3 linked regions of the Homo sapiens genome follow. The protein of the gene in region 3 interacts with the protein of the main gene of each other region in a biochemical or structural test. Each region holds a gene or a part of one and is shown on either strand. Other genes may lie near its edges.

What was found. The genes of interacting proteins can lie anywhere in the genome.
Region 1: the proteins of MAPK8IP1 (region 3) and LRP8 form a complex in vitro, tested with the Homo sapiens proteins (one study listed by BioGRID).
Region 2: the proteins of MAPK8IP1 (region 3) and MAP3K12 form a complex in vitro, tested with the Homo sapiens proteins (one study listed by BioGRID).

Annotation. Positions count from the first base shown.
Region 1 is NC_000001.11:53,262,040-53,269,070, forward strand, and holds part of LRP8 (low-density lipoprotein receptor-related protein 8 isoform 1 precursor), read right to left. Parts: exon of another isoform or gene 5,886-7,031; intron 5,119-5,885; exon of another isoform or gene 5,057-5,118; intron 4,609-5,056; coding exon 4,434-4,608; intron 3,975-4,433; exon of another isoform or gene 3,713-3,974; intron 2,358-3,712; coding exon 2,130-2,357; intron 526-2,129; coding exon 407-525; intron 169-406; coding exon 29-168; intron 1-28. UniProt on the Homo sapiens protein: Cell surface receptor for Reelin (RELN) and apolipoprotein E (apoE)-containing ligands. LRP8 participates in transmitting the extracellular Reelin signal to intracellular signaling processes, by binding to DAB1 on its cytoplasmic tail.
Region 2 is NC_000012.12:53,482,428-53,489,458, forward strand, and holds part of MAP3K12 (mitogen-activated protein kinase kinase kinase 12), read right to left. Parts: intron 5,002-7,031; 5' UTR 4,965-5,001; coding exon 4,520-4,964; intron 4,196-4,519; coding exon 4,012-4,195; intron 3,821-4,011; coding exon 3,629-3,820; intron 3,049-3,628; coding exon 2,890-3,048; intron 2,788-2,889; coding exon 2,629-2,787; intron 1,939-2,628; coding exon 1,830-1,938; intron 1,594-1,829; coding exon 1,484-1,593; intron 1,339-1,483; coding exon of another isoform or gene 1,335-1,338; exon of another isoform or gene 1,320-1,334; intron 1,297-1,319; coding exon 1,180-1,296; intron 1,060-1,179; coding exon 922-1,059; intron 763-921; coding exon 138-762; coding exon of another isoform or gene 72-137; exon of another isoform or gene 1-71.
Region 3 is NC_000011.10:45,902,638-45,906,983, forward strand, and holds the end of MAPK8IP1 (C-Jun-amino-terminal kinase-interacting protein 1), read left to right. Parts: coding exon 1-547; intron 548-727; coding exon 728-803; intron 804-1,351; coding exon 1,352-1,524; intron 1,525-1,817; coding exon 1,818-1,927; intron 1,928-2,080; coding exon 2,081-2,197; intron 2,198-2,333; coding exon 2,334-2,404; intron 2,405-2,513; coding exon 2,514-2,612; intron 2,613-3,011; coding exon 3,012-3,084; 3' UTR 3,085-3,828; downstream 3,829-4,346. Other genes in the region: FREY1 (protein Frey 1), read right to left, coding at 3,932-4,053, 4,232-4,305. UniProt on the Homo sapiens protein: The JNK-interacting protein (JIP) group of scaffold proteins selectively mediates JNK signaling by aggregating specific components of the MAPK cascade to form a functional JNK signaling module. Required for JNK activation in response to excitotoxic stress.

The sequences.
Region 1 (7,031 bases), on a different chromosome or scaffold from region 3:
GGCCCTTGCCTCTCCTTACAGGACTCACCTCAAACACAGCTATCCCAAAAGGGTGGCTCAGGAAGTCAGTGGAGGAGATCAGCGTCTTTCTGTTGCCTCCACTGAAGTCAATGCTGGACAGTTGGTGTAGCTTGGAGTCTACCCAGTACAAGCGCTGGCTCAGCAGATCTTGGGAAGGAAGCAGGATCAGGTCATGAACCTGGGACCCCAGTCTGGAGCTCTGTTCCTTTGTACCTCTCCCTGCCCACATTTCTAGGCCTCACACTGAGGCCAGCCTACGGCAACCATTAGGAAACAAAGTCACTGGCACCATGAGAGGACCCAGAAACAAGACTCATGGAGTTCCAGACAGTGATCAGGACAAGGCACTAGAATAGGCCCCCAACCCAGGAAAGGCAGGGCTCACCCAGGGTGATTCCGTTGGGCCATTCAATATTGTCTGACACCAGTGTTTGCCGGTCCACACCGTTGAGCCCAGATTTCTCAATCTTGGCCTGGTCCCCCCAGTCAGACCAATACATGAACCTAAAAGACAAAATAACCCAATTTGCCTTCTTGCTGGGGACATGACCGGGGTGGTCTGAGTCACAAGAGCTCAATAACCCATTGACTAGTTGTGGTTTATGTTTAGTAGGGACTGAGAAGACCTCTAAAGTTCTTTTGAACCATCAAATCTTAGATTTAGCAGGCACTTTAGCCTTCACCTCATTTGAGAACTTGAGGAAAACTATTCTCCGAGATTGCACCCAGACTCAGCTGAATAGCCTGTGACCCCATCTCTCCCACTTCTGGCAGTGCTAACTAACTAGAGCCCTAGGGTGTCAGTGTGGGGAAGGCCCTAGTAAGCCCTCTCTTTTCTGGTTTCAGAGGAGAAAGTGGATGAGCTTCCTAACTCAGGTAACCCTCCCTGCTTTTGTCTCCTCAGGCCTACTAGGGCCAGTAGCAGCCCACTGTTACTAATCCAAGGTAGTAAATTAGACCTAACCCACTCCTTTGTAAATAGTCCCTTTATTAAACCCTCCTCTGATTATCTTGAGTATGCAGTGGGTTTCCTCCTGGGACCCTGACGATCCGCAGTGGATTGGGGTTGGGCTGGGTGTAACTCTATGATGTGAGGGACAGGATGTGGCAGGTGCAACACAAGGTCTGCATGAGAACAGACAGAGAACAGGGATGAAGTGAGGGTAAGAGGAGAGGCTCCGTATCTGTCAGAGTGCCTAGTTCTGTGCTGGAAGCACCTGACCCATGCTTAGTGAATGGCAGCTATCAGTCACTTCCCAAGGCCTCACATAACCTCCCATGTGGTACTCCCCTCACCAGCTGCCCTTGCTCGAAGAAGAGGGTTTTCTTATCCCTGTTTAACAAGGAAATAGCAGTAGGAAGCAGCTGTTGATTCTGTTAAACTTAACATGATATAACGCTAAAAAAACCATCTCAAGATATCCACACTGAGGGAGAGAGGGAGTCCTGTTCTGTTCAGAATCCCTAACTCCCAAAACTGAGGGGTGGCCAGAGCAGGGCAACCTAGGTGGTGAGGGCCCAGAGACCATAGGCAACAGGGGTAGGGATGGAGGCAGGCAGTCTGAAGCAGAACAGACCAGTGATCTTGGTCCTCAAATCTTGCTGGCTCTCTCACAGGGCAGGGAATAGACATGTTTTATGTAACTCCAGAGGCCAATGGAGGAAGTTGCAGGGAGATAGATTTGGCATTATGAGGGGAAAAGACCCACTTTCTAATGAGCAGAGCTGCCCCACGGTGAAACAGGCCCTATGGGAGGTAATGAGCTACCTGTCTTTGGAAGTATGTGAGCAGCTGTCAGATGCTCACCTACAGCAGCCTGAAGAAAGGCTTCCTCCCCCAGGAGCTTCTATCAGGCCATCTCTAGAGCCCTACTCTGCTCTGAGACACTCCAATTCTACGATATAACGAGTGGGTGGGAGAGTCCAGGGAGAACTTTGGTGACCAATGCCCAGAGAACCTTGGTTGGGGATTAACAAGACTTTCTTCCCCATGGCCTGTGTCTGAGTGGCCCAGAGCTTTCTAGAACCCTCAAGATAGCCCTTGTGACAGACACAAGAGGACTGAGCACCTATGGTGGGAGAATGGGAAGTTCAGTTGGGACACTCACCCTCGCAGGGGGTCAACAGCGATGGCCCGGGGTTCACTGAGGTTACGGCTGAAGAGAGTGCGTCGGCGGCCACCATCAACTGTGGCCACTGAGATGGTCTTATTGCCCGAGTCAGTCCAGTAGATGTGCTTGTGGACCCAGTCCACTGCCAGGCCCTCTGGAGAGTGCAACTGCTCGTCAATGAGGACCTCCTGCTCTTTCGGGTCACTGGCCTTGTCCATGTAGGCGCTTAAGAGAAAACAGAGATGACCATGGGGCAGATGTTCCACCCATGGGCCCATCTGGAGCTACCTGTGCACCCTTCCCCTCTCTTCCATCTGGGCCATGGCAATAGATTTTTAGAGGAACGTGGATAATTTCCACTCTACACATTCCCTGGGGTACCAGGGTAGGGGTACAGACTTACATGGGCCACGGTCTCTGGCTTTCTAAGGTGGGGCTGCTCCACAGCTCTGCCCATTAGGGTGAGCCAGATATAATACAATGTGATTATGGAAAGCATTAGAGGCTATGGCAGCAGAGGCATGGAGACTGCCTCATCCGAGAGGGCGGGAGAAGGCTTTATAGTTGAGTCCTGAAGGACGAGTTCACCAGGAGCATGAAGTCACCAGGACAGAAAGCCATTAGGGAACAAGAAAGGCTTGTGCAAATGGCCAGAGGTGAGTCTGCTCTGGAACAGTGAGATACTTAGGGGAGCTGCTTATGTGGGTGTCAGACTGCAAGCAGGTGTAGGCAGGAACCCCATCTTGATGGGCTTTGAGTACCACGCCAAGGAATTAGGATTTCTCCCCAGTGATAACTAGACAGGCCAGAGGATATAGTCCAATAAGCATGTTAGTTCACTGTGGCATCTATGGAGTGGATGGGTTGGAAGGAGAGGGAATGAAGCAGGGAAACTGGTTAGGAGGACGTTACAGCATCTGGGTGGGAGATTAAGAGAGTCTGAAGAATGACCGTGCCAGTGAGAATGGAAAGAAGGGCTAAGAATACAGTAGACACTCAGGAGGCAACATTAGCAAAATAGCAAATGCTGTTTCCCCAGAGGTTTTCTTCTTCTTGCCCTCTCTCTGGGTGATTAGTTCCTTAGTGTCCACTGCCATCAATAACTAAGTCTCCAATCCCAACAGCTCTCTTACGATCCAGACTGCAAAGCTAACTAGCTCCCCTTGGATGTCCCATGGACACCTTGAACTCAATATGTCCAAAACTGTTCATCCCCATTCCCTTCCCCTCGGCCAACCAGACGGCCCAAACCCTGAGCCCTGATCCTCCTCTACTGCTTCACACATCAGAGAACAGCACCACCATTCATGAAACCTCCCAAGCCAAAAACCTGAAACTCCCAAAATTCACTATGAAGGAGTAAATTTCTTCCATCAGCCCCATATCTAGTCTGTCACCAAATCCTGCCTCTTTCAGTTACATCTCTTGGACAGGCATTGTTCTAGTTATGTTTTTGGGTGTGTGTGAACGGAGTGTCTGTATGTTGCAGGGAGGCAGGAATCTAGTTGTCAGTGAGTAGCACTTGCTATATTTGCTTCCATCCACTCTTCCACCCATCTGTCCCATCATTCTTTCATCAGTGACTCAGTGTCTACCCAGCGCCTGGTCATCGGCATTCCTGCCAAGTGGATCTCAGGACAAAGAAAGGACATGACTGCCTGAAGAGGGCCCAGACATGCAGTGGGGCAGGTGCTGGCATCTGAGAAAGTCCTAGGAGAGAACCTCCTCCAGTGTGTGAAGAGCTTCCCAAGCACCAGGTCCACTGACTGTGGCGTCAAAGACAGTGAAAAGCTGGCCTTGGGGTGATGCCATCCAGGAAGGCATGCCAGATCAGATGCCCAGGTGGGTTCGGAGGCCTCCTCTGTACTTTCTCATGATCATCACAAATGGATGTCACTGTGTTGTGAGTGGGATCCTCTGGGCAGGGACCAGGTCTAAGTCCCCAGGTTCCAACACACAGGGATGTGAGCTGCTTGGAAAGTCCTCCCCAAAGCCAGGATTTCTTCCTTTCTGCCCTGGCCAAACAGTTCCTGTGTCTTGTGCTTCCATATTAGGCCTCCAGAGGTCAGACAAATCCCAGGTGTTTGGGGCTCAAAGCTGCTAACCCAAGGGAGCCCTCAGACTACTCCAGCCCCAGTAAAGTCCCAGAAGTTCCATATCCACTGTGATCCTGCATCTCTTCCCAAGTCCCAACTCTGTCCTGAGGAGCTCTAGAGGCAGACACCACTCCTCCCCTCCTCACCTGTCACCACCCCTCACCCCCACTCTTCATGCCTTGCTGCAGAGGATATGGCCGCTCACCTATAGATCTTACGGTAGGAGAGGTCACACCAGTAGATGCGATTGGTGGCAACTTCCACATCTAGTGCCACGACATTCTTGAGCATGGGGATGAGGCGTGAATAGTTCCGCTTCACCAGGTCGATCCTCCGCACCTCGTGCCGGTTGGTGAAGATTAGGGATGGGCTCTTGCCAGCTGTCATGCAGGGAGGTTGAAAGAGAAAGAGTCAGTGCAAGAGGCAGGGAGCCTGGAGACCAAGACTCTGCCACTGGCTTGCTGGCTGACACATCCATTTTCCTTAAAATAGTAGTGACAATTCCTACTTTACAGGTTGCAGGAGCAGATGAAATAATGAGTACAGAAAGCAGAAGATGCAGAGCACCACGCATAGCAGGAAGATTCTTATTCTTTTTATTAGATACAAACTTCTCCAAAATCTTTTATGGCTCCCCATTTTCTCCTTAGGCCTGCACTGAAAGCCTTCCACAGTGTGACCCCAAGTTCCCTGTCCAGCCTCATTACTCGCCTCTCCAACATAGCTTGATTCCACCTACCAGATACCATTACCTAGCCATGGATGGGCTTCCTGCCTCAGAGCCTTTGCTCAGGTTGTCCCTTCCACCTACTATGTATTTCTTTCCAGCAACTATCATCTTCTCTGCTTGGGCCCTACTGCTGTGGTTCAAGAAGGAACTACCTGAGCAAGTAAGTGTCTTAGAAAGATAACTAGGGGCCAGGCACAGTGGCTCACACCTGTAATCCCAGCACTTTAGGAGGCTGAGGCTGGCACATCGCTTGAGGCCAGGAGTTTGAGACTAGCCTGGGTAATATGGCAAAATCCCATCTCTAAAAATAAAAATAAAAAAAAAATTAGCTGGGCATGGTGGCACATGCCTGTAGTCCCAGCTACTCAGGAGGCTGAAGTGGGAGAATCATTTGAGCCCGGGAGGTTAAGGCTGCAGTGAGCCATGATTGTGCCACTGCACTCCAGCCTGAGTGACAGAGACTCTGTCTCAAAGGAAAAAAAAAAAGATGATTCAGGATAGAAAGTATTGGGGACATAGCAAGAGATGAGCTTCAGAGATTGGCAGGGGCCAGATCACAAAAGGTCCTATGAGCTGGGTGAGTTTGTTCTCTATCCTGAGCCAATGGCAGAGATGGGACATATATGATATACAACACAGATTATATATATGCAGTAGAGACAACATAAACTGCTCATGTATACACAAAACCTGTATTTTTCTTAGATTTAGGGTTAGATTTTAAGATGATAAATAAGTGACCTAGACTTTCCTGGCTACTCCATATGGGAGGACACTGTCCCATGGGCCTCTGAGGGCCTAGCACCAGCTCCCACAGGCTGTTTCTAGATGTATTGGGCCACTCTCAGGCACCAACACTGTCTGAGGGGCTGCTCCTAGTAACACCTGCCCCTCAAGCTCCCTGTGCCTCCTTCTCTTGTTTTCCAGCTGACACTTCTGCCAGCCACCAGTCCCTGTCACTGTGCATCTTTGCCAAGCTAATGTGCTCCCTGGAGGATGGGACCAGCACAGAGTCAGGTAGGGCCTGGGGCTGGGTGTGTGACCTGTGTGTAGTGATGGAGACTAATTCAAAGCAGGGTGGGAGTGAGACAGAAGTGTGGTACAAATAGCATGGAGAATGGGCTCAAGGTGCAGGAAGGGGCAAGGATGAAAGCTGAGTTACAGGCCAGCTCTGCCACTGACAAGCTGTGATTTCCCTCACCCCAAAATGACAGTAATGACACTTCACCTCCCTGAAGGCAGGAGCCAGGTTAAAGGGGCATGTTGGAGTGATCTTAAATGACAGCTGTGACTGTGACAGGAACCCCCTGTGTTTATGATTTGAGATTTTATGTAACTGCACTTGAAATATTCATGTGTGTGGATTTTGTATATGCATGGGTAGTTGCATGTTGTCTCCAGTGCATGTACATAATCTGTGTCATGTATTACATGTGTTCTATATGGGGGCAAGAACAGGTTACACGTTATATGTGATATACTAATGTATGAGTTACATATTGTACAGTTTGGGTGTTACAGTTTTTGGGTTTATGGGCTACATGTCAGTATTATGGCTGCTGTATTGTTATAATTTATCTGTTGTATATTGTATTTAACTTGCATATGAACTCCAGACTCATATATCCAGCTGCCTTCTCAATATCTCTACTTGGATACCTAACCAGTTTTCTTAAACATAACATGTCCAAAACAGCCTAAGATTCCTCCAAACCTGCTTCCCTCACCATCTTTCCCAAGCCCATACGTAGCAATCTTATTTTTTCAGTTGCTGTAACTTTTTTTTCCACATTCCACATTCAATTCATAAGCAAATCCTGTTGGCTGGCCTTTGCACTATATCTGCAGTCTGTCCACTTTTCATTATTCCCACAGTAATAATGTGGGAATAAGGGTTCAGCCACCATCACCTCGCTTCTGGATTATTGCAATGACCTCTTAAGTGGTTTCCCTGCCTTCTCCCTTGTCCTCTACAGTCTGTTCTCAATACTGCAGTCAGAATAAAATGTCACACCATGTCCCTTCCCTACTCAGAGCCCTCAATGGTTTCCCCCCAGTTAGAGTGAAATCCAG
Region 2 (7,031 bases), on a different chromosome or scaffold from region 3:
TCCAGGAGAAGGGAACATAGTTACGAAGGGTGAAGTAGGGAATGGCTTAAAATTGAGCATAATGTGGGGGATTAGACTTGGACCCCAGGGAGGATAAGGAAAAAGGGAAAGAGCTTGGGAGCCTTCCCATACTTTACCTGACTTCGGGTGACGGCAGCCCTGTACAGCAGTGCAGCTGGGGTCAAGTGCTGGGACCCAGCCCGGCTTCCTCCCCGGCCTGAGGTCCCTTCCCTTCCAGTTCCCAGAAGCCCCACACCTTCACCAGGCCCTACTGGAGGAGGTGGTTCCCCTTTGGCTCCCCCAGGTGAATCTGGGCTGGTGGAGCCAGGGGCTGAGCCCTCACTTGGTGGGGTGTCACCCCGGGCCGGAGGTGGTGAGCCAGGATCCCCAGCTCCGCCTGTGGCCCCCCGGCCCCGGGACCCTAGTGCTGCTGACAGCAGGTCTGGGGACGATGAAGACATTTTGCGGAGCAGGAGGTCATGATGAAGCCCACGGAGGGCGGGAGGGCAGGCCTCCCAGGCTGAGGGTCCCCCTCCTAGGCCCCCTGGGCTTCCTGGTCCTCCAGGTTCATGGGGTGGCACAGCTGTACGAAGCCCAGGCAGGTCCCCACAGCTCCCCTTGGCGCTGGCCTTGCGGTGACGGGTCTTGCCACGGCGACTCCGTCCTGGTGAGGGGGGGCCCTTAGGACACCCAGGAAGCCCCACCCCACTCAGGGCTGCATCTAGTTTAGGGAGCAAAGACTCCGTCTTGAGGATATCTGGCCTGGAAGAAGAGGAAAAGTAAAAGGTTAAGACTGCCAAATCTATGTACTCAAAGCACTCCCTAACCTTGGACACTAAAGTACACATCTCCCTGCTAATATACCTGTTGCCACTTCAGTATCCCTCTTGCCATATTGGAACCACAGTACTCATGTCCCACCTTTTGCTATGGGGTGACAGCTTCTGTGGCACATTCCTCTTCTTGATAAGCTTCTCCATTGTGTTTCCATGCAGGAGGCCCCGGGAAGGGTGTGGCTTCAGCAGGCCTGGGCACCTCCGCTCTAAAGCTTGCTCTCGCCTAAAGATCCAGGCACCTTCTCAGCTGGGCAAATGACCAGGAAGGGGCACCCCAGTCTCAGTAGGACCTCTAAGGCAGGCACAGCTCCAGGGCTTGGTGCATAAGGACAGGTAGGGTTACCTGAGCAGCTCCCTCTCCTTGAGTTCCAGCTGCAACATGAGGGCATTAAGTTCCATATACAGGTTGTTGGCTCTCTCCAGCTTCCTTTCATAGTGCTCCCTGATGTCCAGGGCGTGTCTGCAACGGGCAGAAAGGTTCCCCAAGGTGAACTGGGTTCACCTAGGGCCATAACAGATCTCAGTCTCAGAATTCCTGTCCACAGTCCTTTCGTAGTCCTTCCACCCGCCCTGGGGCTGGGTAGGAGCTGACTGGGTGCATAGTCCTTGCTGTTAGTAAAATCACCTCCCCAAGCACGGGAACTCACCTGAGCTCCTCCCTCCTCCTCATCACCAGTTCCTCTTCTAGGCGGTGCAGACAGGTCCCTTCTGACTTAATCTTTTCAAAGTGCAGTTTTACTTCTTCCCGCCACTCTGCCTATGGGTTGAGAGCAGATGAAGAGTGAGAGCCATCCCTTCACCCAGTGAAAGGCTCTGCAGGTTGCCCACACCACTGCCAATGTGTGTGCTGGAGCAAAAAGGAGTGGATTGACTCAGCCCTCTAAGAGCCAATCTCTTCAGTCCCACTCAACCCATTTCCCAGCCTCCCCCTCAAATAGCATCATCTCTGCAAAGAAGGGGAGTTAGGTATTTATTTTCCTACCCACAGCACACCTGGGACTTAAAGTAAGTCTCCTGGGGTGTGGAGAGTACATCAGCTGAGGCAATGTCCAGATGCAGCAGGATCTGTCGGAATGATGGGCGATTTCGTGGTTTGCTATTCCTGAAAGGAATGGAGTTAGGAAGGAGAGGGGAGAATTTGAGGGAGGATCAGATAGGAACTGGAGCATCCTTTCCCAAAGTGTGTCCTGGAGAATCCAATCCTAGAATGTACTCTGTGACAAAAGAACTTATGGTCAACTGTCTCTAGAGAATATTACACACTATTCATTAGTGTGTCAAAATCCTGCAGTAAGGAAACCTATTGAACCCCATATTTTCCAACTTGTCTCCCAAAATAAAAGCCTTTTCTGAATAACTTCATTGAAGGAACCACATTTTGGGAAATGCTCAGTGACAGATTAGCAATCGTCAAACTTCCCTGGGTCTAGGTTCCAAATGAGGGTCTGGGGTCCTTTCCTTCTGTGTTCTAAGGTTGTTTACTTGAGGCTCAACCAACCATGCTTGGTGGTTATGCTGCTCCTTCCTTGTACTTGTATGCACTCACTGGCACTTCATGACAAATCAGGAATGCAGATATCGTTAAGTGTATTTTATAGATGAGGAAACAGGTTCAGAGTAGATACCAATTACCCCTGGTGACTCAGCTCAGAAGGTAGCATGAGCCTGATTCAGATGAAAGTCAGTCTCTTTGAATTAAATGTACCCCTGCCATTTATTGGTCAGTCCAGCCCAGTACTACCGTGCTTCTCAACTTCTCCAGGCCCAGTATCCCAGCCCAGACCATCCTTACCAGCACTGGCGAAGCAGGATCTTGAAACCATCTGGGCAACTGGAGGGCACGGGCAGATGGAGACTGTTGCTTCCCACACCCCAGATAATGGCTGAGGAATCTACGTCTTTGTAGGGGATCTCACCAGTCAGCAGTTCCCATAGCACCACGCCAAAGGACCTAGGGATGAGGGGACATCACTTGTGCTCAAGCCCTAGAAGTTGCCCACAATCCCCCCAGGGCTGGCCACCCACTCTTCTCAGTTTTCAGCCTAGTTCTCACCAGATGTCGACCTTCTCAGACACAGGTTCATTGCGGATCACCTCAGGGGCCATCCAGGCTACTGTCCCTGCAAAGGACATCTTGGTGCTCTTGTCACTCAGCTCCTTGGAAGTGCCAAAATCTGAGATCTTCACCACATCGTCGTAGGTGATTAGCATGCTGGTAAAGAGTGTAGTCAGCTGGGGTCCACACCCCTCCACACACCTCATCTAACTCTGCAGCAACTCTGCCTTTCAGGTTTTTTTGTTTGTTTGTTTGAGACGGAGTCTCACTCTGTCACTCAGGCTGGAGTGCAGTGGCTCAATCTCGGCTCACTGCAACCTCCACCTCCTGGGTTCAAGTGATTCTCCTGCCTCAGCCTCCTGAGTAGCTGAGACTACGGGCACTCGCCACCACGCCTGACTAATTTTTTTGTATTTTTATTAGAGACGAGGTTTCACCATGTTGGCCAGGATGGTCTCGATCTCTTGACCTTGTGATCCACCCGCCTCGGCCTCCCAAAGTGTTGGGATTACAGGCGTGAGCCACTGCATCCGGCCTGCCTTTCAGTTTAAAATCATTTGGGACACTCAAAGGTGAGGGGCTCACTACAGCCCTTCTGAGATGGGACTGTCACTTGGAAGAGGTTTCTGAGATGGCCACATGGACCTAGGGCATGGTTTGGAAGCCGGGAGAAGGCCACACTGACTTGAGTGGGTCACCTGCATGCACATCTGTTGCTCCCTGCTTGCTTACTCACTTGGGTGACTTGAGATCCCTGTGGATAATCTTGTGCAGGTGCAGGTAGTTCATGCCACCAGCGATGCCCATGGACCAGTCAACCAGTAAGGAGGGGGTGACAGGGCGGCCAGCCCGCAGTACCTCATACAGCTGGCCCTGGGCGCAGAACTCCATGAGGATGCAGTAGCAGGGAGCCTGGGTGCACACACCCCTGGGAGCCAAACAATGGTATGAAGGCCTCAGCTGGCTCAGCATTCACCTGATTCATACCTGGAACCCCCATTCCCACCCATTCCACCTATGGATCTCCTCTGGGGAAGGATGGGGTAGGTCCCACTGCCCAGGAGGGTACCAGGCCTTAGCATAGTATCCCCAACACCCAGCCCCTGCCCTGGACCTCACTTGAAAGTGATGATGTTGGGGTGCTTCAGCTTTCGCAAGTGCTTGATGTCGGTTTCTTTGAGGTCTCGCACCTTCTTCACAGCCACCTCCTCCCCGTGGAAGCGCCCCAGGAAGACAGCACCCTGGGCCCCTGAGCCCACCCACTGCAGGTCCAGGATTTCCTCAAAGGGGACCTCCCAAAGGTCTGTGGGCAGGAGGCACAGTGCCACAAGCCTCAGAAAGAGCCACACTCAAGGCCAGGGACAGGATAGCATTGGGTTGGCTGAATTGACTTAAGGAGGGTGAGGCAGAAAGCCAAAAATAGGCCAAGAAGAAGGTTCGAGGGGACAGGGAAGGAATGAATGGGTGGCCTTAAAAGAAGCTGGGAAGTTAGAGGCTGATGGATGGCTAAGGGACTAGGGCTGGGCCATGGGGAGGGAAGGGACCATTGCGTGACTTTAGCGGAGCTGACCAACAGATCTCGGGCTCAGGGAAACAGAGAGGAGGCTCCCACAAGGACGTGGCCTACCTTCCTGCTGCTGCTTGTGCTCAGTGGAGTAGGCTTTGCCAATCATGGTCCAGACAGGGCGCAGGCAGCCAAAGAGGCCCTCAAGGAAGCCACTGCCACTCTGGCACTGCAGTCGCACCTCGTCAGCTCGAACTCTGGATGCCCGACTCTCAGGTGACCCAGCTGCTCCCCCTGGGCCCCCTGCATCCTGCTCATGTAGCTGCAGGACACTGTTGGCAAAAGGCTCAGGGGGCGGCTCTCCACCTGGGGAGGGGCTGGGCCCTCCCCCACCCTGCCCACCAAGGGGTACCACATCTCGAAGTACACACTGGGTAGGCGTCAGGTCCTTCTCGGGAGTGCAGTCAGAAGTGTCTGGGTCCAGCTTGCGCATGGATGCCTCACTTAGGGTAGACACAAAGCCCCCAAAGGAAGGAGAGGGTGTTCGGGTCTCATGGAGGCAAGCCATCGCCTCTGGCCCCTGGTATGATGGTGAACACTGGGCCCTGTGGGAATGAAGGAAGGAGGGGCTGGGCTGTTAAAGCCCCAGGACTGCCTGCTCAGGACACTTATCCCAGAGGCACAGACTGGGGTGCTGGGTTCACAGTAGCCCCGCTGGAGGTAACACTTGTGGCTCCGTTTCCCATGGCCCTCCAAATTGCACCTTGAGCCATCTTAGGAAATCTGATACACTTGGGCTTCCTCTCAGGCATGTTAGTAAGGCAAGTAATAGGTAGACAGGTATCGTACCTGAGTATCATTCTCAGGTAACAGCCCCACGTGGGTACACACTGGTAAAATATGTCTCAAATTCAAGAGTAATGGTAACAGATGAGTTCCCTTCTCCCTGTAAGATGACTAATTCATTGCTGCAGCACATTTTTTTCACCCGAGACTCACAGGCACACACAGGTATCAGAAGGGTCTCACATTTACACCTTTACCTCGGGGTCAACCTCAGGCACACAATAGTAACACCTAGACCTCCTTCACATTGAAGCACACACAGGATGCTGGTAAACCTTTCAGACACCCTTGGACAGCATTCTTGAGCTGCCTACACACAGGCGATGCACCCGGGCCTCCCACCCAGGTACTTACACACGGTACTACTGAGGCCCTCTCAGGAACACTCAACTCAGGTGAGAGCCTCATTCTAAAACACACCCCTGGGCCTCTCCAAGGTAAGTGAAGGTTGTAACCACAGAGTTCTGTCCCCCCAGCACAGGTGGGGAAAAAGGCAGAAGCAGCCAATGGGGATGCAGACACTGTCACAGAAGGCCACTGCTTCATCCCCCTTGGCCCTCCCTTCAGTCCAGCGGCTCTCCCAGGGGTCAAACAAGGTCTTGTCTTCTCTTTCCTCTTCTCCATTGCCCCATCCTCTGCTCCCCAAACTTTCCAGGCAATGGAGATGTGTCCCAGTTCATAGCTGGGTGCTATTTAAAAAGCAACCATTAGGCCGGGTGCAGTGGCTCACACCTGTAATCTCAGCACTTTCAGAGGCCGAGGCGGGCGGATCACCTGAGGTCAGGAATTCGAGACCAGTCTGGTCAACATGGAGAAACCCCGTCTCTACTAAAAATACAAAATTAGCTAGGCGTGGTGGCACATGCCTGTAATCCCAGCTACTTGGGAGGCTGAGGCAGAAGAATTGCTTAAACCCGGGAGGCTGAGGTTTTGGTGAGCCAAGATCATGCCACTGCACTCCAGCCTGGGCAACAAGAGCGAAACTCTGTCTAAAAAAATATATAAATAAATAAAAAGCAACCATTAAAAAACCTGAATCTGGCACGGTGTGTTGGCTCATGCCTGTAATCTCAACACTTTGGGAGGCTGAGGCAGGTGGATCACTTGAGCTCAAGAGTTTGAGACCTTGGCTGGGCGCAGTGGCTCACGCCTGTAATCCTAGCACTTTGGGAGGCTGAGGTGGGTGGATCGCTTGAGGTCAGGAGTTTGAGACCAGCCTGGCCAACATGGCGAAACCCTGTCTCTACTTAAAAAGAAAAAATTAGCTGGGCGTGGTGGTGGATGCCTGTAATCCCAGCTACTCGGGAGGCTGAGGCAGGAGAATCACTTGAACCCCAGAGGTGAGGTTGCAGTAAGCCAAGATCACACCACTGCACTCCAGCCTTGGGCGACAGAGTGAAACTCTGTCTCAAAAAAAAAAAAAAAAAAAAAAGTTTGAGACCAGCCTGGGCAACATGGCAAAACCCTGTCTCTACCAAAAATAGAAACAAACAAACAAACAAAAAACAACAAAGCTGGGCATGGTGATCCTGTGACTGTGGTCCCAGCTCCTCTGGAGGCTGAGGTGAGATGATTGCTTGAGCCCAGGTGGCGGAGGTTGCAGTAAGCCACTGAATCCCAGCCTGGGCGAAGTAGCCAAACCCCGTCTCAAAAAACAAACAAACAAACAAAAACCCTGAATCCTGACTTGCTTCTGCCACATAATGGCTATGTGACCTCAGGCGAGCTGTAGTTGAGCCTCAGCTATACAAAGGAATAAACTGGCTGTCACTAAGGCACAGCAAACCCT
Region 3 (4,346 bases):
GACGCTGCAGAGCCCACCTCCGCCTTCCTGCCGCCCACTGAGAGCCGGATGTCAGTCAGCTCCGATCCAGACCCTGCCGCCTACCCCTCCACGGCAGGGCGGCCGCACCCCTCCATCAGTGAAGAGGAAGAGGGCTTCGACTGCCTGTCGTCCCCAGAGCGGGCTGAGCCCCCAGGCGGAGGGTGGCGGGGGAGCCTGGGGGAGCCGCCGCCACCTCCACGGGCCTCTCTGAGCTCGGACACCAGCGCCCTGTCCTATGACTCTGTCAAGTACACGCTGGTGGTAGATGAGCATGCACAGCTGGAGCTGGTGAGCCTGCGGCCGTGCTTCGGAGACTACAGTGACGAGAGTGACTCTGCCACCGTCTATGACAACTGTGCCTCCGTCTCCTCGCCCTATGAGTCGGCCATCGGAGAGGAATATGAGGAGGCCCCGCGGCCCCAGCCCCCTGCCTGCCTCTCCGAGGACTCCACGCCTGATGAACCCGACGTCCATTTCTCCAAGAAATTCCTGAACGTCTTCATGAGTGGCCGCTCCCGCTCCTCCAGTGAGTCAGCAAGGGGAAGCAGTGGGGTGGGGGGGTCCCTAGCGGGGGCAGAGCCAAAATGCGAAGTGTTCTGGGAGGCGACCCCAGGCCCCATCTGGTTAGGACTGAGGCTTCTACCTGCCCCGCTAAACCTGGATCAGAGCTGCGACCCCCCATCCAGCCACACCACCTCACCTGCAGGTGCTGAGTCCTTCGGGCTGTTCTCCTGCATCATCAACGGGGAGGAGCAGGAGCAGACCCACCGGGCCATATTCAGGTGAGAGCCATGGGCTGGCTGGGCCTAGCCAGGCAGCAGTTTGGGCCACACACCACCCTCTACTTGTCACCCCTACATGGCCTCAGCCTAACCCCTGCCATCAGCCTTCATTTATCCACTCAGCCCTGGGAGGACAGTGTCCACTCTCTAGGGACTCAGAGTATGGTGACAAAGAGGATGGCTACAGTGAGGGATCCCAGAACTGTGCACCTAGTCTGGCCAGGGGCAGGGCACCCAGGAGGGTGACCAGGAGGATGCCTGCCCACACCCCACCTGACCCTTCTCTAGACAAAAGCCTGCGCTTCCCACAGCCTCTCCATTTTAGAGGGGGCCCTGCCCACACCCTCCCTTGGCCTGTGTTTCCTCGATGGCAGATGCATGTCTGCTTGACCTTGCTCTCCCCTGGGGTTAGTACTGCAACAGGCACACAGGATGCTTTTGCAAATGTTTACTGAAATAACGATGCTGCTGTGGCTCCCAGACCCCAGAGTAGGCCTGGCTGGACAGGCCTTGGTGCCGAATTTCTCACCTGTCCTTGCTGGGGACAGGTTTGTGCCTCGACACGAAGACGAACTTGAGCTGGAAGTGGATGACCCTCTGCTAGTGGAGCTCCAGGCTGAAGACTACTGGTACGAGGCCTACAACATGCGCACTGGTGCCCGGGGTGTCTTTCCTGCCTATTACGCCATCGAGGTCACCAAGGAGCCCGAGCACATGGCAGGTAGTGTTCCCTCCCTGGCCTGTGCCCCCAGCCACCACATCTGTCTGCCCCAACTTGCTGCTAGGTGAACGTGTACTCCAGATCTCAGCCAGCCAGGTGGGGGGCTGAGTGGAAGTGATTTTAGGTCCTTTTCACGATCAAGCAAAGTGAGGCCCGGCCAAGTTGGGCAGCCAGGGATTGTGGCAGCCTCTGTGGGCTCTGCCATTCCCCGTGCCTCACCCACCCTCCTTCACTTGGCTGCTCAGCTCCCTCCTGCTCTTTCTGCCCCTCCTCAATTCACGCTTGCTTTCCAGCCCTGGCCAAAAACAGTGACTGGGTGGACCAGTTCCGGGTGAAGTTCCTGGGCTCAGTCCAGGTTCCCTATCACAAGGGCAATGACGTCCTCTGTGCTGCTATGCAAAAGGTACCTGAGCCCTCTCCCTTCTCCTCCCTTGGATGGGTCCCTGGGGCAGAGGGACGCAGGTGTCTAGAGGCAGTAAAGGGCTCAGGCCCTGGGACAGGAGGGATCAGCAGAGGAACAGACAGCAGCTGACGTGGCTCCATTTGTCACCTGTAGATTGCCACCACCCGCCGGCTCACCGTGCACTTTAACCCGCCCTCCAGCTGTGTCCTGGAGATCAGCGTGCGGGGTGTGAAGATAGGCGTCAAGGCCGATGACTCCCAGGAGGCCAAGGTGACTTCTTCCAACCCAGCCCCTTCCTTCCATGGCCCCAAGCTCTCCCCCAAGACTTGTGATGAAGAGGCCATCTCCTGTCACCCTCACTGCAGGCCAGGTGACCGCCCTCTTGCTTCTTTTCTCCCTCCTGTAGGGGAATAAATGTAGCCACTTTTTCCAGTTAAAAAACATCTCTTTCTGCGGATATCATCCAAAGAACAACAAGTAAGTGGGGGTGGGATGGCAGTGGAGGAGGCACGGGTGGTCTGCAGCCTTGAGGTGGGTGGGTGTGGGCCGAGCCCCCGTCCCAGCACAGACAGACCTGTCCCTGCAGGTACTTTGGGTTCATCACCAAGCACCCCGCCGACCACCGGTTTGCCTGCCACGTCTTTGTGTCTGAAGACTCCACCAAAGCCCTGGCAGAGTCCGTGGGGTACGTGTACACCCTGCTGAGCACCCAGCCCGAGGGAGCACGCCCAATCCCAGGCCCTGGGGCTGCTTCCTGGCGCTCAGCTTTGCCCCTCGGTTTCCCCCGCAGCTCTGGAGAACTATCTCCGGACCCCAGTGCGGGTGGCCTGGAGGGAGGGTGGCGCGGCAGGGTGAGCCTGAGGAGCAGCTTCCAAGCTTGGTAGCTGTTGGGCCATGTCTTCAACTGACATCTTACTGGGAAACGCGATGGCAATTCTGTAGAGAACAGAGCCAAGTGGCCCCAGCCAGAGGAACCAGAGCTGCACTTGGGCCCCAAGGCTCCAGCGGGAAAACCCTGGGTCGGGATCCTGTTCCTCCCTTGCCAGTGGCGATCTGAGCCATCTGTGTGTCCCCTGGCTTCTAGGAGAGCATTCCAGCAGTTCTACAAGCAGTTTGTGGAGTACACCTGCCCCACAGAAGATATCTACCTGGAGTAGCTGTGCAGCCCCGCCCTCTGCGTCCCCCAGCCCTCAGGCCAGTGCCAGGACAGCTGGCTGCTGACAGGATGTGGCACTGCTTGAGGAGGGGCACCTGCCACCGCCAGAGGACAAGGAAGTGGGGGCCGCTGGCCCAGGGTAGGGGAGGGTGGGGCAATGGGGAGAGGCAAATGCAGTTTATTGTAATATATGGGATTAGATTCATCTATGGAGGGCAGAGTGGGCTGCCTGGGGATTGGGAGGGACAGGGCTTGGGGAGCAGGTCTCTGGCAGAGAAGGATGTCCGTTCCAGGAGCACACGGCCCTGCCCCATCCTGGGCCTTACCTCCCCTGCCAGGGCTCGGGCGCTGTGGCTCCTGCCTTGATGAAGCCCGTGTCCTGCCTTGATGAAGCCTGTGCCACCTGCAAGTGCCCGCCCTGCCCCTGCCCCAACCCCCACCGAAGAGCCCTGAGCTCAGGCTGAGCCCAGCCACCTCCCAAGGACTTTCCAGTGAGGAAATGGCAACACGTGGAGGTGAAGTCCCTGTTCTCAGCTCCGTCATCTGCGGGGCTTCTGGGTGGCTCCTGCCACTGACCTCACCGGCATGCTGGCCTGTGGCAGGCCTAGGACCTCAGGCGGGGAGGAGGAGCTGCCGCAAGGCCCTGTCCCAGCAGAAGAGGGAGGCTTCCTGACTGACACAGGCCAGCCCCATCTTGGTCCTGTCACCCTGGCCCCAACTATTAAAGTGCCATTTCCTGTCTGGACTGCAGTGGATGTATCTGCATGGGCCCCTCCCGTCCCCGTCTCGCTCCCAGCCCAGGAAAGCCAAGCCTTTGTCACACATGGTATCTTTATGAGGGCCTTGGGTCATAGGTGTGCATCATAGTAATACTCGGCAAGGTCGGGCCCGTCCCGCTTGCGCTGCTGGGCCCTAGACAGGAGGGGTCGAGGCCCTCGCGGCCTTGGGTGCTTGGGGAGGATGCCATAGTCTAAAGAGAGAAAAGAGGGCATGGGTGGTAGGGGGCAGCTGGCTCTGATGGAACTGAAGTCACCCTTGAACAGATGTGGTTTGGGATGACAAGCCCCTGAAGGCTGGACTTGGGGCACCTCTTAGGGGCGTCTCCACTGTCAGGGATGGGTAGGGGAAGGGGACAAGAGAGATACTACCATCCACCAGGCCGGAAAGTGGCTGCGAGAGTTCCAGGGGGGCGGAAAATGCCTCAGGAACAGACCGCTGAGACCTGTGGGAGATGTCGGGGTGCTCAGCCCTGGCCCAGAAGGC